Homo sapiens: one gene and its partners. The protein of the gene in region 1 purifies or fractionates together with the protein of each later gene. This does not show direct contact. Each region holds a gene or a part of one and is shown in the gene's direction. Other genes may lie near its edges.

Region 1 (3,644 bases):
TCTATGCAGATGGTGTAATTTCTTGATCAATTTTCTATAGTACATCAATTAAACTGTTACCAAATCTTTCATTTTTAATGAAAATTATTTTATTGGAATAAATTGTTTTTATTTCTGTTTTATGACAACCCAAACCTGTTTTTCTCTGTGACAAATATTGTCAGTTATAGCTTCTACCATCTTAGAATTTTTCTCATGTCCACTATTTCCATTCAATTTACCCAGGTCACATTTTATAGATCAAAACTTTGTCAAGATTTTATTATTCCTTCTGTTCTGAGCGAATAATACGTGTGATGTATCCCTTTAGCTGCTGTCATTTTACTTTTTGTTGACCATCTTTGCCAGGAATTAGGTAAAAGATGAAGCAAACATAAATATGCAGGATCTGGGTGCATGCCAAGGGTCAAAACATTGCAGTCAAATTGTCTTTGGGGTCACAAGATTGGTCTTCTTGGTTCCATCATTTTATAGGCATCAAACCAAGGCAAGCATTGGTTTTATCCAAAGTGTGAGATCAGATAAAACAGTAGCTGGCCTCTGGCTCACCTAGAGACTTCAGAAAAGTCCCCTAATGTCTCTGCCTGTGCTTTCGTCTCATTGGGGAAGGGGGATGAGGAAGGGGAGAAGCTGTACATGTCACGGACACTCCAAAAGCCACCTCACCCAAGTCTAGCGAGGATTCTTGAGGAAGTAAGATGCAGAATGGTTTGCAGAGAGGCAGGAGGAAGGTATTTCCAAAGTCCTTCAAAATGAAGATGCTAGTTCTGAATTCTCTCTCGAAGGAAATGCAGAAAGATATGGATGAGAAGATGGACATTTTAATAAATACACAGAAGAACTATAAGCTGTAAGTGTAACCTGCACTCGTCTCTCCTCATCCCTAAAGGGTCTCCTCCCTTCCCTTTGTTGGATCCCTTTGGGGTTCAGAGGACACCCAGACTCTTGGAGGAGTTGTCTTTGCTCCTACTGCCCCTGTGACTTGGAGTCAAGGCCTTCCATGGCCACCCGTGTACTGGTTATCTCCTTGTCATGCTGCAAAATGTCTCCCCAACTCTCTGCCCCTCCCTGGCCCTCCTCCCCCAGTCCCCTTAGAAGAGCACCAAAGGAGCAGCAGGAACTCAGGCTGATGGGAAAGACTCACAGAGAACCACAGCTCAGGCCCAAGAAAATGGATGGAGCCAGTGGAGTCAATGGAGCACCCTGTGCTCTTCACAAGAAGACGATGGCACCACAAAAAACAAAACAGGGCTCACTGGATCCCCTTCATCACTGTGGGACCTGCTGCGTAAGTGAAACCCTGCCCGAGCCCAGCACTGGTGCCAGACCCCTGGCTCCGGCTCCCTGGTGACTTCCCCGAGCTTGTGCTGTATCATAGTGAAGGGACAGGTCCGCCCGCTGCTGACTTCTGGGTGCCGCCCGAGCCTGCGCCCTCCCTGACCTGCCTTGCCTTCTAGGCCTGTGGAGCCTCCTTAGCTGTGACCATGCAGGACTTGACCCTGGATGGGCCTACCCGCCAGCTCCACCCTCTTATTCTGTCCTTCCCTTTAGCAAGGGCAGATAAGGTGCCTAGCAGGCTGCCCTTCTTGGACCAGGGGAAATTGATCTTTCTTGTGCCGTTTCTGTCCTCTGCAGGAGAAATGTTTGTTGTGTGCTCTAAAGAACAACTACAATCGGGGTAGGTAGATTCATACAAGATGTGCCTTTTCTCGATCAGGTGCCTTGTTGTCCCCAAGGCCATGTGCTCCCAGCCGCATTCACATCACACCCCTCCTGAGGTTGTGCCAGGAGTAGGGACTGTTAGCAGATGCTGCCACCCAGCATGCTCAGTCATACAGGATGTGGCACCAGGAAGGAGGACTTGGGTCACCCAGCCTAGAGGCTGCTGCCTGGGGCTCCCATGGTGGGGAGGGTGCACCACTAGTGGCGGAACTGACCTTGCCTCAGGTCCTGCCCTTTCTCCCCATCCAGTGGGAAATATTCACACCAGGTCTGGGCACCCTTTTCACCCTTGGCTTCTGGAGCTGCCTTCTGATTTATCTGTACCTCAACCCCGGTGACATCGAATATGTGTTTCCAACCTAGCGCAGCTGCAGAACCTACCAGCAGTTCCGATTCATCACCTCCAAGCTCCTTAAGATGCACAGTCAGGGCTTCTTGTCCTGTTAAATACCACCCCAACCCCAGGCCTCCACTGGAGATTAAAAACCTTCATTCAAAGCCAAAGGGGATGTCATGGTTTTGAGTACCAGTCCAAAACTTGAGTGTGTGGAGGTTGATTATTTTTGGTTCTATATCAGTGTATTTCAGACTCCAACCCTTCCCCCTGCTTCCTGATGGATTGGTGGGAAATTACATCTTAGTCATCTTAGGGTCCTCCCAACCACCACCTCCCTCCATTCCACCTGGGTCTGCAAACGTCCCAGGTCATAGCATGGGGAGGGCCCCTGATGATAGCGGACGCCAGTCTGTGTGGTCTCAGGAGAGACCCTGCTGCCTGGCCCATCCGCTCCCTCCACATAATCAGCCTCCACCTGTGCATGGGGCCAGGGTGTCTTGGGTGATGCAGGGAACCCCTCAGCCTCGAGTTCTGCCTGCACCACACCCCTCTGAGGTCTTGTCACCAAGCAGGACTCAGGTCCCTGCTGCTCATAGGAACTGGGTAGCTTTCTTGGGTTCTGGGGATCCACCCTTCTCACCCCCTTGAAGGTTTCCTCTCCCTCCCTCCACCCCCAAAGGGAACATTCCTTCAGAGGCCTCAGGCCTTTACAAAGGTGGAGAGGAGCCAGTGACCACCCAACCTTCTGTGGGCCACGCTGTGCCTGCCCCAAAGTCCCAGACTGAGGGAAGGTGAAGCTTAACTGCCAGCTTGAAATGAGAGTAAAGAAGATACAGAGCAAACAGTGTTTCAGAAACTGTCCTGCCCTGGGTGTGATTCTTTGGCTTCAATTTGAAGGACGAGGAATGATGGGATTTCATATTTTATTTCACACCAGTTCCTCCTTGTTTCATCTCTTTGCTAAGCTGGCTGCTTCTACCATCTAATAAATAATTGGCCAAGTTCTTTTTTTTTGGAATTTTATTATTATGGTTAATTTTGTGGGTTCATAGTAGGTGTATATATTTATGGGGTACATGAGATGTTTTGACAAAGTTATGCAAGGTGAAATAAGCATGCCATGGAGAATGGGGTATCCATCCCTTCAAGCATTTATCTTTGAGTTGCAAACAATCCAGTTACGCTCTAAGTTATTTGAAAATGTACAGTTATTGACTGTAGTCACCCTGTTGTGCTATCAAATGGTAGGTCTAATTTATTCTATTTTTTGTACCCCTTAACCATCCCTACCGGCCCCCAAGCCCCTGACTACCCTTCCCAGCCTCTGGTAACCATCCTTCTACTCTATATCCATGAGTTTCATTGTTTTCATTTTTAGATCCCACAAATAAGTGAGAACATGCGATGTTTGTCTTTCTGTGCCCGGCTTATTTCACTAAACATAATGATTTCCAGTTCCATCCACATTGTTGCAAACGACAGGAGTTCATTCTTTTTATGGCTGAATAGAACTCAATTGTGTGTGTGTACGATATTTTCCTCATTCATCTGTTGATGACACTTAGGTTGCTTCCGAATCCTGGCT
Region 2 (3,644 bases), on another chromosome or scaffold:
TTTGTATTTTTTGTAGAAATGAGTTTTGCCATGTTGCATAGGCTGGTCTCAAACTCCTACGCTCAAGCAATCGTCCTGCCTCAGCCTCTCAAAGTGCTGGGATTCTAGGCATAAGCCACAACATCCAGCCCTAAGTACTGTCTTATAACAAATATTTGGACTCTTAAGGTACAAGTTAACAGTCCTTGAAACCGTTAGAACAAACTTTTCAACATTACAGAAAATAACTTTGTATCTCCTTTAGCAAAAGCTCTGCCTCTCCTGTAACAGGTAGACTTGGACAGAAATTCACTTTTTAATGACAGAACAAAAAGACAAGAATAGATTTGACTTAAATTATTTTGGCAAATTCAATTTTTACTTCTAATTTTATTAAATATACATAGGAACTCAACTTCACAGTAAATGATATATAATAAGAATATATTTAAATTGTTATGGTGCCCTTCTTTCTTATCTTTCTAAACAAAGGCAAATTGGTTTTTTTTGAATTTTATTTATTTATTTTTATTTTATTTTATTTTATTTTATTATTATTATACTTTAAGTTTTAGGGTACATGTGCACAATGTGCAGGTTAGTTACATATGTATACATGTGCCATGCTGGTGTGCTGCACCCATTAACTCGTCATTTAGCATTAGGTATATCTCCTAATGCTATCCCTCCCCCCTCCCTCCACCCCACAACAGTCCCCAGAGTGTGATGTTCCCCTTCCTGTGTCCATGTGTTCTCATTGTTCAATTCCCACCTATGAGTGAGAACATGTGGTGTTTGGTTTTTTGTCCTTGGTGATAGTTTACTGAGAATGATGATTTCCAATTTCATCCATGTCCCTACAAAGGACATGAAGTCATCATTTTTTATGGCTGCATAGTATTCCATGGTGTATATGTGCCACATTTTCTTAATCCAGTCTATCATTGTTGGACATTTGGGTTGGTTCCAAGTTTTTGCTATTGTGAATAGTGCCGCAATAAACATACGTGTGCATGTGTCTTTATAGCAGCATGATTTATAGTCCTTTGGGTATATACCCAGTAATGGGATGGCAGGGTCAAATGGTATTTCTAGTTCTAGATCCCTGAGGAATCGCCACACTGACTTCCACAATGGTTGAACTAGTTTACAGTCCCACCAACAGTGTAAAAGTGTTCCTATTTCTCCACATCCTCTCCAGCACCTGTTGTTGCCTGACTTTTTAATGATTGCCATTCTAACTGGTGTGAGATGGTATCTCATTGTGGTTTTGATTTGCATTTTTCTGATAGCCAGTGATGGTGAGCATTTTTTCATGTGTTTTTTGGCTGCATAAATGTCTTCTTTTGAGAAGTGTCTGTTCATGTACTTCGCCCACTTTTTGATGGGGTTGTTTGTTTTTTTCTTGTAAATTTGTTTGAGTTCATTGTAGATTCTGGATATTAGCCCTTTGTCAGATGAGTAGGTTGCGAAAATTTTCTCCCATTTTGTAGGTTGCCTGTTCACTCTGATGGTAGTTTCTTTTGCTGTGCAGAAGCTCTTTAGTTTAATTAGACCCCATTTGTCAATTTTGGCTTAAGAAAGGCAAATTGTTAATCTAGATGTTCACATCTCCAGAGGCATTTGTGTCAGAAATGTTTTAAAATTCCTCTCAAAACAATAGACACTGGGGACTGTAAAAGGAAGGAGGGAGGGAGGAAGGTAGGGAGGCAAGGGTTGAAAACTACACATCAGGTACTGTGTTCACTATTTGGGTGAAGGATCAATAGAAGGCCAATCCTCAGCATCACACAATATGCCCACGTAACAAACCTGCACATGTACCCCCTGAATCTTAAAAAAAAAAAAAAAACTCTCAAGTTTCCTGCTTAAAAACCTGTCAGTTTTAATTCTGACATAGAGCATGGTATGACTACAGTGCCTGTAATCCCAGCACTTTGGGAGGCCAAGGAGAGAGGATCGCTTGAGCACAGGAGTTTGAGACTAGCTTGGGCAACATAGCAAAACCCCATCTCTACAAAAAGAGAAAATAAGCCAGTCCTGGTGATATGCACCTGTGGTTCCAGCTACTCAGGAGGCTGGGGTGGGAGGATAGTTTGAGCCCAGGTGTTGGTGCCTGCAGCGAGCTATGATCATGCCACTGCACTCCAGCCTGGACAACAGAGCAAGACCTTGTCTCTTAAAAAAAGGAAAAAAAAAGACTGCACATGTATTTAGGATCTATAAGAGATGAATTTCATAATATTTTGCATAGAGTTTTCAGATTACGTCCTGTGTTAATACAAAACAAAACAAAAGATCGGAGCAGAGTGGGCATGGGGAACTTCTGTCTGAGGAACAAATAATGGCAACAAGAGAGTTGGGGAGTTCTGTCTGTGGCCTTCTGCCTTTGGTTTAGTGATGTTTATTGCAGCAACCCAAGTAATATCTTCTCAGAGGATTCATGTGAGTTACACTTCTGCCTCCTAGGCACTTCCAGGGGCTCATACCCCTTCAGTCACTCAATGAAGCCTCACCTACATCCACGCCTGTACCACGGCTGCTATGGGGACATCATGACCATGAAGACCTCTGGGGCCACTTGTGATGCAAACAGTGTGATGAACTGCGGTAAGTGAAAAGCAGAGCAAATGACTGGCTTCCCCCTTTCATCGTTTTCAGATTCTTTCTTAGGAAGTCACTTAATTTTGAAAAGGTATAATCATCATTATGACAATAGTATCAAAATTAAAAATGAGCAAAAACCACAATCCTGACCAATCTAACAACCAGCTTCTTTTCATTTTCCACCCCCATTCTTTCCAAACTTTGTCCAGCTGTGTTTATTTCCATGTATTGAAACTACTGCTTGAATAAATATTAGACTCTGGCTTTGTTTTTTGGGTGGTGCTGCTGTGTTTGCTTCATGTTACACATGACCATTTGAAGCAATACTGTTCCAAAGTCGTCTTCATCACGTTATCCTGGTTTTAGAGTGTCGGAGCTGGCAGCAACCACAAGGTCACATCAGACCCCAACCCCTCAAATTTACAAATCAGAGCCCAAAGACTCAGCAAGGAGGGGAATACTTCCCAATAGAACAGAACCAACTAGTGGCGGAGCCAGGCTAAAACATGCATTGGCTAACTCCTAGTACAACAGGCTTCCCAGTGCACTAGTGTGGCAGAATTTTTTTTGTGTGTATGACAGAGTCTTGCTTTGTCACCCAGGCTGGAGTGCGATGGCATGATCTCGGCTCACTACAATCTCCACCTCCCAGGTTCAAGCGATTCTCCTGCCTCAGTCTCCTGAGTAGCTGGGGTTACAGGTGCCTGCCACCAAGTCCAGCTAATTTTTGTATTTTTAGTAGAGATGGGGTTTCACCATGTTGGCCAGGCTAGTCTTGAGCTCCTGACCTCAAGTGATCTGTCCACCTCGGCCTCCCAAAGTGCTGGGATTACAGGCATGAGCAATTTGAAGGAGAAACAGAGCAGAAGCGACACCTGTTGGGGGTTGTGGATCTGTTTGTTTCTGCAGTCAGAGATCAAAAGGATGTCTTAGAATGGTTGTCCCAAGTCATTAGCAGTGATCAGAGGCTGTGGCTAACTTAGCAAATTTTTAAAAATGGTTTTCTTCTGAAGTAGAAGAAACAGTTTCTTTTCTTTTTTTAACTTTAAATTCTTTTT
Region 3 (2,462 bases), about 160 Mb from region 1:
ATAAAACCTGACTGATGGTGGGTGGGTGGGCAGCAACTGACCCAGCTCCCCGCTAAGCCAAAGCAAGAGGATTCCTCATCCAGTGCCCTCGGGCAGTTGTACATTTCCAGTGACAGGCGTTACCACTTCCAGTGAACTCAAATAAAGGTCTCAGTTCATTCCACTGTGGCAACCAGACCCTCCCACTCCTTATACCCCAAGATGTGCACAGTGGCCAAGGCAAGCTCAGACAGGTGGAACCCACCCAAGGCCTGGGAAAGTCAGAGGCTGCTGACTCGGCAAGACCATTAGCTGTGAACTTGGCTCCTGCCTGTCTGCTTCCCTAAGCAGGTGGTCCTCACGTTGGTGCTGTCCCTGTCCTTCTCTTTCATCTCTCTCCTTCACAGATGATGAGCAGGTCAAGACCATCTCCATCAACCAGGTGCTCTCCAATAAAGACCTCATCAACTACAATAAGTTTGTGCAGGTACAAGGGCTGTGGTGTACCTGTGGGCTGTGATTTGGGAGTAGGCGGGGCTGGAGGCAAGGATGGGATACAGACATCTGAGGCTAACTGTTCATGAAAGCTCAGGTTAGAACAGGCCCAGACAGAGGGGTCCCAACACCCTCTTTTGACCCAGAAGAAGTGAGGGGAGCGACAGGATGCCTTGGTGCCCCCAAAACACACTGGCAAGGTGTCCCCAACTCTGGCCCTCCCCTGCCCCCAGAGCTGCATCGACTGGAACCGTGAGGTGCTGAAGCGGGAGCTGGGCCTGGCAGAGTGTGACATCATTGACATCCCACAGCTCTTCAAGACCGAGAGGAAAAAAGCAACGGCCTTCTTCCCTGACTTGGTGAGGGCACTACCCATGACTCCTTTGCCAAATCAGGCTGCAAACCTCTAAGCTCGAGAGAGGAAAAATGTCTGGTCACAGTCATATTTAGGATTGTGGTGGCCAGTGGGGGTGGCAGGGAGAATCAGGGGTCCTATGGTGCTCCTCAGAAGGGCTTCTAGCTGGCTGACCACCATGGTCCCTGTGGAATGCTTGCTGGCCAAGCCCTGGCCCAAGGGGCATCAGGGAAGGGGTCCACTTGACATTTGTGGAGTGAATGAATGATTGCATGAGGTCACGTGTGCAAAGCACATGGCATCAGCTGGGAACCCAGATGCTCATTCTGCTCTCTTCCTCCCAGCTTGTGGCTCTTCATCCATCCCACATGTATTTAGGGTGTCCTGTGGCAGATGCAGAGATGATTAAGAATGCCCCCTGCTCTCAAGGGACTTTCAGTCTAATCGGTTGAGAGGGAAACTCTTCCCTTCTCTGAGGACATGTCCCAGTGATCTATTTTGTAGGATAAGGCGATGTGGCAGTTTGGAGGTGAGACAAAGCACTTCCAGCCTAAGAGGTAGAACTGGAGATCCAGGAAGTCTTCATGGAAGAAGTGGCTTTTGACTGAGCCTTGAGGGCTTTGCCTCTGATGCTTGTAAATCTTTTTTTCTTTTTTTCTTTTTTTTTTTTTGAGACGGAGTCTCACTCTGTTGCCCAGGCTGGAGGGCAGTGGCACAATCTCACTCACTGCAACCTCAGCCTCCAGGGTTCAAGCGATTCTCCTGCCTCAGCCTCCTGAGTAGCTGGGATTGTGGGATTGCAGGCGTGCACCACCACGCCCGGCTAATTTCTGTATTTTTAGTAGAGATGGAGTTTTGCCATGTTGGCCAGGCTGGTCTTGAGCTCCTGACCTCCGGTGATCCACCAGCCTCGGCCTCCCAAAGTGCTGGGATTACAGGCGGAAGCCACCGTGCTTGGCCTGCTTCTAAATCTTGAGCTTGCCTTTGAAACACCTGGACAGGTGGGGCCCCACCCCAGCGGTCCTGATTCAGCAGGTCTAAAGCACGGCCCGAGGCACTGCTGCCGCGCTAACAAACACCCAGGTGGTGCTGATGCTGCCTTTTAGAGGAACACAGTTTGAGTAGCACTGCTATAGGTCACCCAGCTCCCCTCTCCACTCCTCCCCACCTCATCCCCTAAAAGAACTCAATTTGCCCATTGTCAGAGCCTTGTGGGGAACCTGTCCACACCACCATTGCTTCATGCCCCGCTTTTTCCTTCCTCTTTTCAGGCAACATTTTGCCCTCCGCTTGCAAAGCCTCTTTTCACTCCCCTTCCTTCCTGTTCGAGGCTATCTTGTAATTATATATGTGCCCCAAGAAGTTTGTGCAATGATTCAGGTTCTTGTGTTCGCAAGAGACAGAGTCCTACTGAAGCCAGCTTCAGCCAGAGGGAGTCTTAATATAAGGACACCAGAAACCTGAGGGCAGGATAGCTGCAGCAGAGCCTGGAACCCTCTCTGTTTCTGTGTCTACATCATTCATTCTCTCTCTTTCTCTCACCCTCTCCACCTCCTACTTCTTCTCCCTCTTCTTCCAGCTTGGCTTCCTTTGCTTCTCTGTTCCTGGGGACAAAGATGAGTATGGCCATGCA
Region 4 (2,967 bases), on another chromosome or scaffold:
GCCAAGGCGGGTGGATCACTTGAGGTGAGGAGTTCAAGACCAGCATAGCCAACATGCTGAAACCCCGTCTCAACTAAAAATACAAAAATTAGCTGGGCATGGTAGCATACGCCTGTAATCCCAGCTCCTCAGGAGGCTAGGGCAGGAGAATTGCTTGAATCCAGAGGGCAGAGGTTGCAGTGAGCCGAGATCGCGCCAGTGTACTCTAGCCTGGGCAACAGAGCAAGACTCCGTCTCCAAAAAAAAAAAAAAAAACTTCATTCTAACATATATATGTTTTCCAAATTGTATATATATGGGTATAGATGTGGAAAAGAATAATTATGACAGAAAGCCAGGTGAAAAAAGTCAAGTTTAGAATGGTCCAGCCAAGCACGAGATTCGTGTGCTGAAGGCTATTCAGCAGGTGGAATATCCATTTCTTTAGTGTTGGATATTTATTATTATATATTATATGTTGAAAACCAGTCCAGATGGCTCATATCTGTAATCCCAGCACTTTGGGAGGTCAAAGCAGGAGGATTGCTTGGGCCTAGGAGTTTGAGACTAGCCTGGGCAACATAGGGAGACCCTGTCTCTACCCAAAAAAAAAAAAAAAAGCCAGGCGTGGTGGTGCGGTGCACACCTGTAGTGGGAGGATCACTTGAGCCTGAGAGGTCTAGGCTGCAATGAGCTGTGATTGTGCCACTGCACTCTAATCTGGGCGACAGAGTGAGATCTTGTCAAAAAAAAAAAAAAAAGAAAAGGAAAACCAGAAGGATATACTTTGGAATGTTGATAGTATTTATCCCTAGGTGATAGACTACGGGAGATTTGTTTGATTGTTTACTTTTCTGCATTTTCTAAATTGTCTACAGTGGGCCCTTTTGTAGTAAGAAAAGAAATGTTTTAAAAATTTTGAAAGGTTTGAAAACCAGCAAATAGAAAAAGACCCCTTAACATTTTCCTCTGAAGAGGCCACTGAAACATGGATGTGTAGTAAGTCAGGCCTGCAGGGAGCTGTGGCTATAGGTGGCTTCAGCTGGAGCCATCCATGGCTCTGGCTGGGACCTTGGTAGGTTCCAGGGTTCCTGGGTTCTTTCCTTACTTCTTGCCCAGCTGGATTCACTCCTGCTTGCGAAAAGCTGACAAAAACAAGGACAACAAGATGAGCTTCAAGGAGCTGCAGAACTTCCTGAAGGAGCTCAACATCCAGGTGGACGACAGCTATGCCCGGAAGATCTTCAGGGTGAGGCAGGAAGTGGGGGCTGGGGCTGCCTGTCCATGGGGCCCTTGACCCCGGCCCAAGGCCTGCTCTGAGCCCACTCGGCTGTCCTGGCTCTGCAGGAGTGTGACCACTCCCAGACAGACTCCCTGGAGGACGAGGAGATTGAGGCCTTCTACAAGATGCTGACCCAGCGGGTGGAGATCGACCGCACCTTCGCCGAGGCCGCGGGCTCAGGGGAGACTCTGTCGGTGGATCAGTTAGTGACGTTCCTGCAGCACCAGCAGCGGGAGGAGGCGGCAGGGCCTGCGCTGGCCCTCTCCCTCATTGAGCGCTACGAGCCCAGCGAGACTGGTGAGAGCCTGACCAGGGCCTGCTACCTGCAGTCGCAGGGCCGCACTGGGCTGGGAGACCCCTGGGGAGACTGCAGCCAGAAAGAAGGGAACCGGAGGGAAGGGGCTGCCTCAGCCAGCCCCGGGGCCCTGCTCCACACTTTCTGGTCCTATGAAAGCCGGCAGATGAGAGACAGGGCTCTGGCATCCCTACCCTTCTCTGGTCCTGTTTCCCTCTTGGCACCTCCTTCAGGGGGCTTTGAGGACCCCTTCTTCAAGAAACAAGAGAGATGGCTGAAAAGCAGATGCTACTCCTGCTTCTTTTTTTTTTACTCATTCTTGGCCCAGCTTTGAGATGTGATAGAGCAGAGAAGATGGGTCCCTGCCCTGGAGGGGGCTCCAGTCTGGAGGTACAGAGAACGGGGAGATGACACCCTGTCCTCAGGGGTCTTAGAGTGTGCAGACAGGGGAGGAGGAGGAGACAGGGCCCCACTCTGGAGTAGCCACAGTCTGGTCGAGAGCCTCAGACTTATCCTAATTCCAAGAGCTCTGGAAGACTGGCTCAGGACAGGCAGGCAAGCGGGTTCAGAGGGCTCCTCTGTCCAGATGGGTGGGCAGCCAGGAGCGCCTGCTGGAGGCTGGCTCTGACGGGCAGTGGCCTCCTCCCTCCCAGCCAAGGCGCAGCGGCAGATGACCAAGGACGGCTTCCTCATGTACTTACTGTCGGCTGACGGCAGCGCCTTCAGCCTGGCACACCGCCGTGTCTACCAGGACATGGGCCAGCCACTTAGCCACTACCTGGTGTCCTCTTCACACAACACCTACCTGCTGGAGGACCAGCTAGCCGGGCCCAGCAGCACTGAAGCCTACATCCGGTGCTGCTCAGGGAGCCTTGGGTCGGGAGTCTGGGTGGGACCCGGGACAGGACCTGGAGGGTCCTAGCCACCACCCTCCCCGCAGGGCACTGTGCAAAGGCTGCCGATGCCTGGAGCTTGACTGCTGGGACGGGCCCAACCAGGAACCAATCATCTACCACGGCTATACTTTCACTTCCAAGATCCTCTTCTGCGATGTGCTCAGGGCCATCCGGGACTATGCCTTCAAGGTGGGAGTGCCCCTGGCAGGTGAGGAGTGGGATGCTAGGGGTGGCCCACCACTCCTAATGTGCCCTTGGGCCTCCAGGCGTCCCCCTACCCTGTCATCCTATCCCTGGAGAACCACTGCACACTGGAGCAGCAGCGCGTGATGGCGCGGCACCTGCATGCCATCCTGGGCCCCATGCTGTTGAACCGACCACTGGATGGGGTCACCAACAGCCTGCCCTCCCCTGAGGTGTGTGGTGGGGATGGGGGATCCCTGGGGGAGGGTGGGGAGCCTAGCCGGGGCGCTAGGTGTGTCTTGACCAGTTGCCCCTCCCCACCTAGCAACTGA
Region 5 (3,644 bases), on another chromosome or scaffold:
TGACGGTACTCCCTCTTGCGGTTGTTTTAAGAATAAAGTGAGTTAGGCCGGGCGCAGTGGCTCATGCCTGTAATCCCAGCACTTTGGGAGGCCAAGGCGAGTGGATCACTTGGAGTCAGGAGTTTGAGACCAGCCTGGCCAACATGGTGAAACCCCTGTCTCTACTAAAAATACCAAAAATTAGCCAGTCGTGGCAGCGGGTACCAGTAATCCCAGCTACTGGGGAGGCTCAGGCAGGAGAATCGCTTGAACCCAGGAGGCAGAGATTGTAGTGAGATCGCGCCACTGCACTCCATCCTGGGCGACAATAGTGAAACTCCGTCTCAAAATAAATAACATTAAATAAATAAATAAATAAATAAATAAATAAAGTGAGTTAAATAACGAAAAGTAAGTTATGTGTAAAGATATTGGAGCAGTGTTTGGCAGGTCACGCTGTGTATGTATGTTATAGCTACCACTTACAAATTCATTTAATTAAAATAGTGGCTTCTGCATCATGAAAAATAGTTGTTCATTTTCTAATTGTAAAATTATGTCATAATATCGAATGTGTTATTTCCAGCTATACAGCACTACCCATTAGCCCCTCAACTTGGTTGAAAATCACTTTGAGATTTAAGGAATTAAGGACAGCTACTGAGGCTTAACTAAATAAGCATGAAATAAGTTTGAGGAGTCACCTCAACTGAAACCTAACCACCTTCTCTGTGTTTCTGTGGGAAAATGTGATTTAAATTCCAAAGTAGATGGCATATATGCATATATACACAGGCATGCACTCACTGTCTTCAGTTATTTTGCTTATTTTCCTGTGCATATTGTTCTGTTTTCGGTGGCTAGGGACATGCTTTATAATTCTTTTTATATTTTTATAGTTCCTAGCATAATGCTGAACACCAGGTGGTTGTTATAAGAATAATCATTGATAACAGTGAAGACTTGGAGAAAATAAAACTTACTTAATTCTGAGTGCCACTTCAACACATAAGTGTTAAGGTCCTGTGGCAGGGTTTGTGAAAGCTGTGACCAGCATAGACTGAGGAATTGTTTTATTTGCCTTAGTGTTTTATGGAATCCCTGGCCTTGGCATGAAGCTCTGTGTTTTATTCTTTTCCTTAGTTGCTATTCATTATTTTGGTGCCTTATAAAATAACAGCAAGAACATTGTCCAACAGTCATACATATTCCTTACATGAATTTATGACTATGAATATGACTATTCCCCTTTATTAATCTTTACATATATGTATACATATACATACACGTATACATATGTATATATATACATACACGTATACATATGTATATATACATACACGTGTACATATGTATATATACATACACGTGTACATATGTATATATACATACACGTGTACATATGTATATATACATACACGTGTACATATGTATATATACATACACGTGTACATATGTATATATACATACACGTGTACATATGTATATATACATACACGTGTACATATGTATATATACATACACGTGTACATATGTATATATACATACACGTATACATATGTATATATACATATACATACATAGATTTATGACTATGACTATGAATATTTTCCCCTTTATTAATTTTTATCTATACATTTGCCCATTTCTGTCCTCAGTGAGCCTAATAGAGGGGAGTACCCATCTTTCTTCATTTAGCTTAAGCATGGCTACTTACTGGCTTTCTTGCCCTGTAGTTCCCAACCTTTGAGCTACCAAAAGCCTACAACTGTGGGTGAGATGCCCTTCCATTTACATTTCCAGATTATTCCTTTAATGTCAACAGCTGTAGAGTAGGGGGCATTAGAATGGTCCTTGTTAGTCTTCATTTTAAGATGAGGAAACTGACGCTTTAAGGTGACTTACTCACTATGATGCAGCTTCTTATTGAGCCAGGACGGAAAACTCAGTTCCTTGGCTTCCAGTTTGGTGCTCTTCCCACTATGTCACCTGCTTTCCTGTGGATCTCTGAGACTGTTGAATCAATCTATGAGAGACTCCTTTTGTCCTGCCTGAACAGTACATCTCTAGCACTCTCTCAGATTTTTATCTCATTTAAATATTAGTCTTTCCTTTCTTAAAATGTACATATTTTTAAATGGTTATGTGAGAAAAGTAATCTATTTTTCCTTTAAATAGCTTTTTGTTTTATTCTATCAATCTTTTTAATTTTTTTTTTTTTTTTTTTGAGACAAGGTCTTGTTCTGTTGCCCAGGCTGGAGTGCAGTGGTGTGATCATAGCTGACTGCACTCTCAAACTCCTGGGCTCAAGTGATCCTCCTGCCTCAGCCTCCCGAATATCTGGGACTGCAGGCATATGCCAGTATGCCCAGCTAATTAAATTTTTTTTTTTTTTTTTTTTTTTGTAGAGACAGTCTCACTATGTTGCTCAGGCTGGTCTTGAACTCTTGAGCTCAAGCCATCCTCTCACCTCAGCCTTCTAAGGTGCTGGGATTACAGGCGTGAGCCACCCTGCCTGACTGCTATTGTATTATATATTTAACTGAGGGACCTTGAAATGTCTTAATTTCTGAGTGTCAGTTTCCCTCTATAAAATGGGGATGATGATAATACTTATCTTACAGATTTTGTTAAGATTAAAGAGTATATAAAGTGGTACAGTCACTTTGCATTTAAATTAAATGTTTCTCAATTGTTGCCATTAATATTATCATTATTATCCTGTGTTCATGTGTATGTGTTCCTCATTTGCTATGATATTCAATGATATTCAGTAGGATGCTGATGGGCACGCTCCTTTCTAGGGAGGGTCAATCAGAAACTCATGTGGTAGTGGTATGGGTTTCCATAATGGATTTCATAATAATTAATGATATTTGAATTACTAGAATAAATCCACTTGGTGATAATATTTTTCAGTATCTAGTCAGATTTAGTTTGCTAATATTTTATTTAATATTCTAATTAAAATTTATTAGAATGTTGTCATCAGTATTCATAGGGAGATGGTTTGTAATTTTTCATTTTCTTTTTCTATGTTTTGGAGCAATATAAACAGCAACTTCTGTAGCACTTAGATTATCTCATTTTTGACAATTTGGTAAAGTTTTCTAATAGCAACTATTTCTGGTGTTTTAGCATTGGTGACTTATTTTATAATTTTTCCATGGAAATATGTGTATTTATAATTTGTATTCCTAGAGGTATTAATTTTGATTAACTGTATTTTTTTTATTATACTTTAAGTTCTAGGGTACATGTGCACAACGTGCAGGTTTGTTACATAGGTATATATGTGCCATGTTGGTTTCCTGCACCCATCAACTCGTCATTTACATTAGGTATTTCTCCTAATGCTATCCCTTCCCCAGCCCCCAACCTCCAACAGGTCCCAGTGTGTTATGTTCCCTGCCCTGTGTCCAAGTGTTCTCATTGTTCAATTCCCACCTATGAGTGAGAACATGCGGTGTTTGATTTCTGTCCTTGTGATAGTTTGGCGAGAATGATGGTTTCCAGCTTCATCCATGTCCCTGCCAAGGACATTAACTCATCCTTTTTTATGGCTGCATAGTATTCCATGGTGTATATGTGCCACATTTTCTTAATCCAGTCTGTCATTGATGGACATTTGGATTGGTTCCAAGTCTTTGCTATTGTGAATAGTG

Evidence for each region.
Region 2: the proteins of TEX35 (region 1) and LYG2 purify together in Homo sapiens (affinity purification with mass spectrometry; 3 studies listed by BioGRID and IntAct, with this or other methods). This does not show direct contact.
Region 3: the proteins of TEX35 (region 1) and PADI3 purify together in Homo sapiens (affinity purification with mass spectrometry; 2 studies listed by BioGRID and IntAct, with this or other methods). This does not show direct contact.
Region 4: the proteins of TEX35 (region 1) and PLCD1 purify together in Homo sapiens (affinity purification with mass spectrometry; 3 studies listed by BioGRID and IntAct, with this or other methods). This does not show direct contact.
Region 5: the proteins of TEX35 (region 1) and GOLGB1 purify together in Homo sapiens (affinity purification with mass spectrometry; 3 studies listed by BioGRID and IntAct, with this or other methods). This does not show direct contact.

Annotation. Positions count from the first base shown.
Region 1 is NC_000001.11:178,519,587-178,523,230, forward strand, and holds the end of TEX35 (testis-expressed protein 35), read left to right. Parts: intron 1-785; coding exon 786-850; intron 851-1,086; coding exon 1,087-1,288; intron 1,289-1,635; coding exon 1,636-1,678; intron 1,679-2,085; coding exon of another isoform or gene 2,086-2,138; exon of another isoform or gene 2,139-2,226; intron 2,227-2,738; coding exon 2,739-2,854; 3' UTR 2,855-3,064; downstream 3,065-3,644.
Region 2 is NC_000002.12:99,245,625-99,249,268, reverse strand, and holds part of LYG2 (lysozyme g-like protein 2 precursor), read left to right. Parts: intron 1-2,448; coding exon 2,449-2,589; intron 2,590-3,644. UniProt on the Homo sapiens protein: May act as a potent antibacterial protein that may play a role in the innate immunity.
Region 3 is NC_000001.11:17,279,964-17,282,425, forward strand, and holds part of PADI3 (protein-arginine deiminase type-3), read left to right. Parts: intron 1-386; coding exon 387-466; intron 467-707; coding exon 708-833; intron 834-2,462. UniProt on the Homo sapiens protein: Catalyzes the deimination of arginine residues of proteins.
Region 4 is NC_000003.12:38,009,805-38,012,771, reverse strand, and holds part of PLCD1 (1-phosphatidylinositol 4,5-bisphosphate phosphodiesterase delta-1), read left to right. Parts: intron 1-1,098; coding exon 1,099-1,228; intron 1,229-1,326; coding exon 1,327-1,558; intron 1,559-2,209; coding exon 2,210-2,411; intron 2,412-2,496; coding exon 2,497-2,641; exon of another isoform or gene 2,642-2,718; coding exon 2,719-2,868; intron 2,869-2,960; coding exon 2,961-2,967. UniProt on the Homo sapiens protein: The production of the second messenger molecules diacylglycerol (DAG) and inositol 1,4,5-trisphosphate (IP3) is mediated by activated phosphatidylinositol-specific phospholipase C enzymes. Essential for trophoblast and placental development.
Region 5 is NC_000003.12:121,743,181-121,746,824, reverse strand, and holds part of GOLGB1 (golgin subfamily B member 1), read left to right. Parts: intron 1-3,644. UniProt on the Homo sapiens protein: May participate in forming intercisternal cross-bridges of the Golgi complex.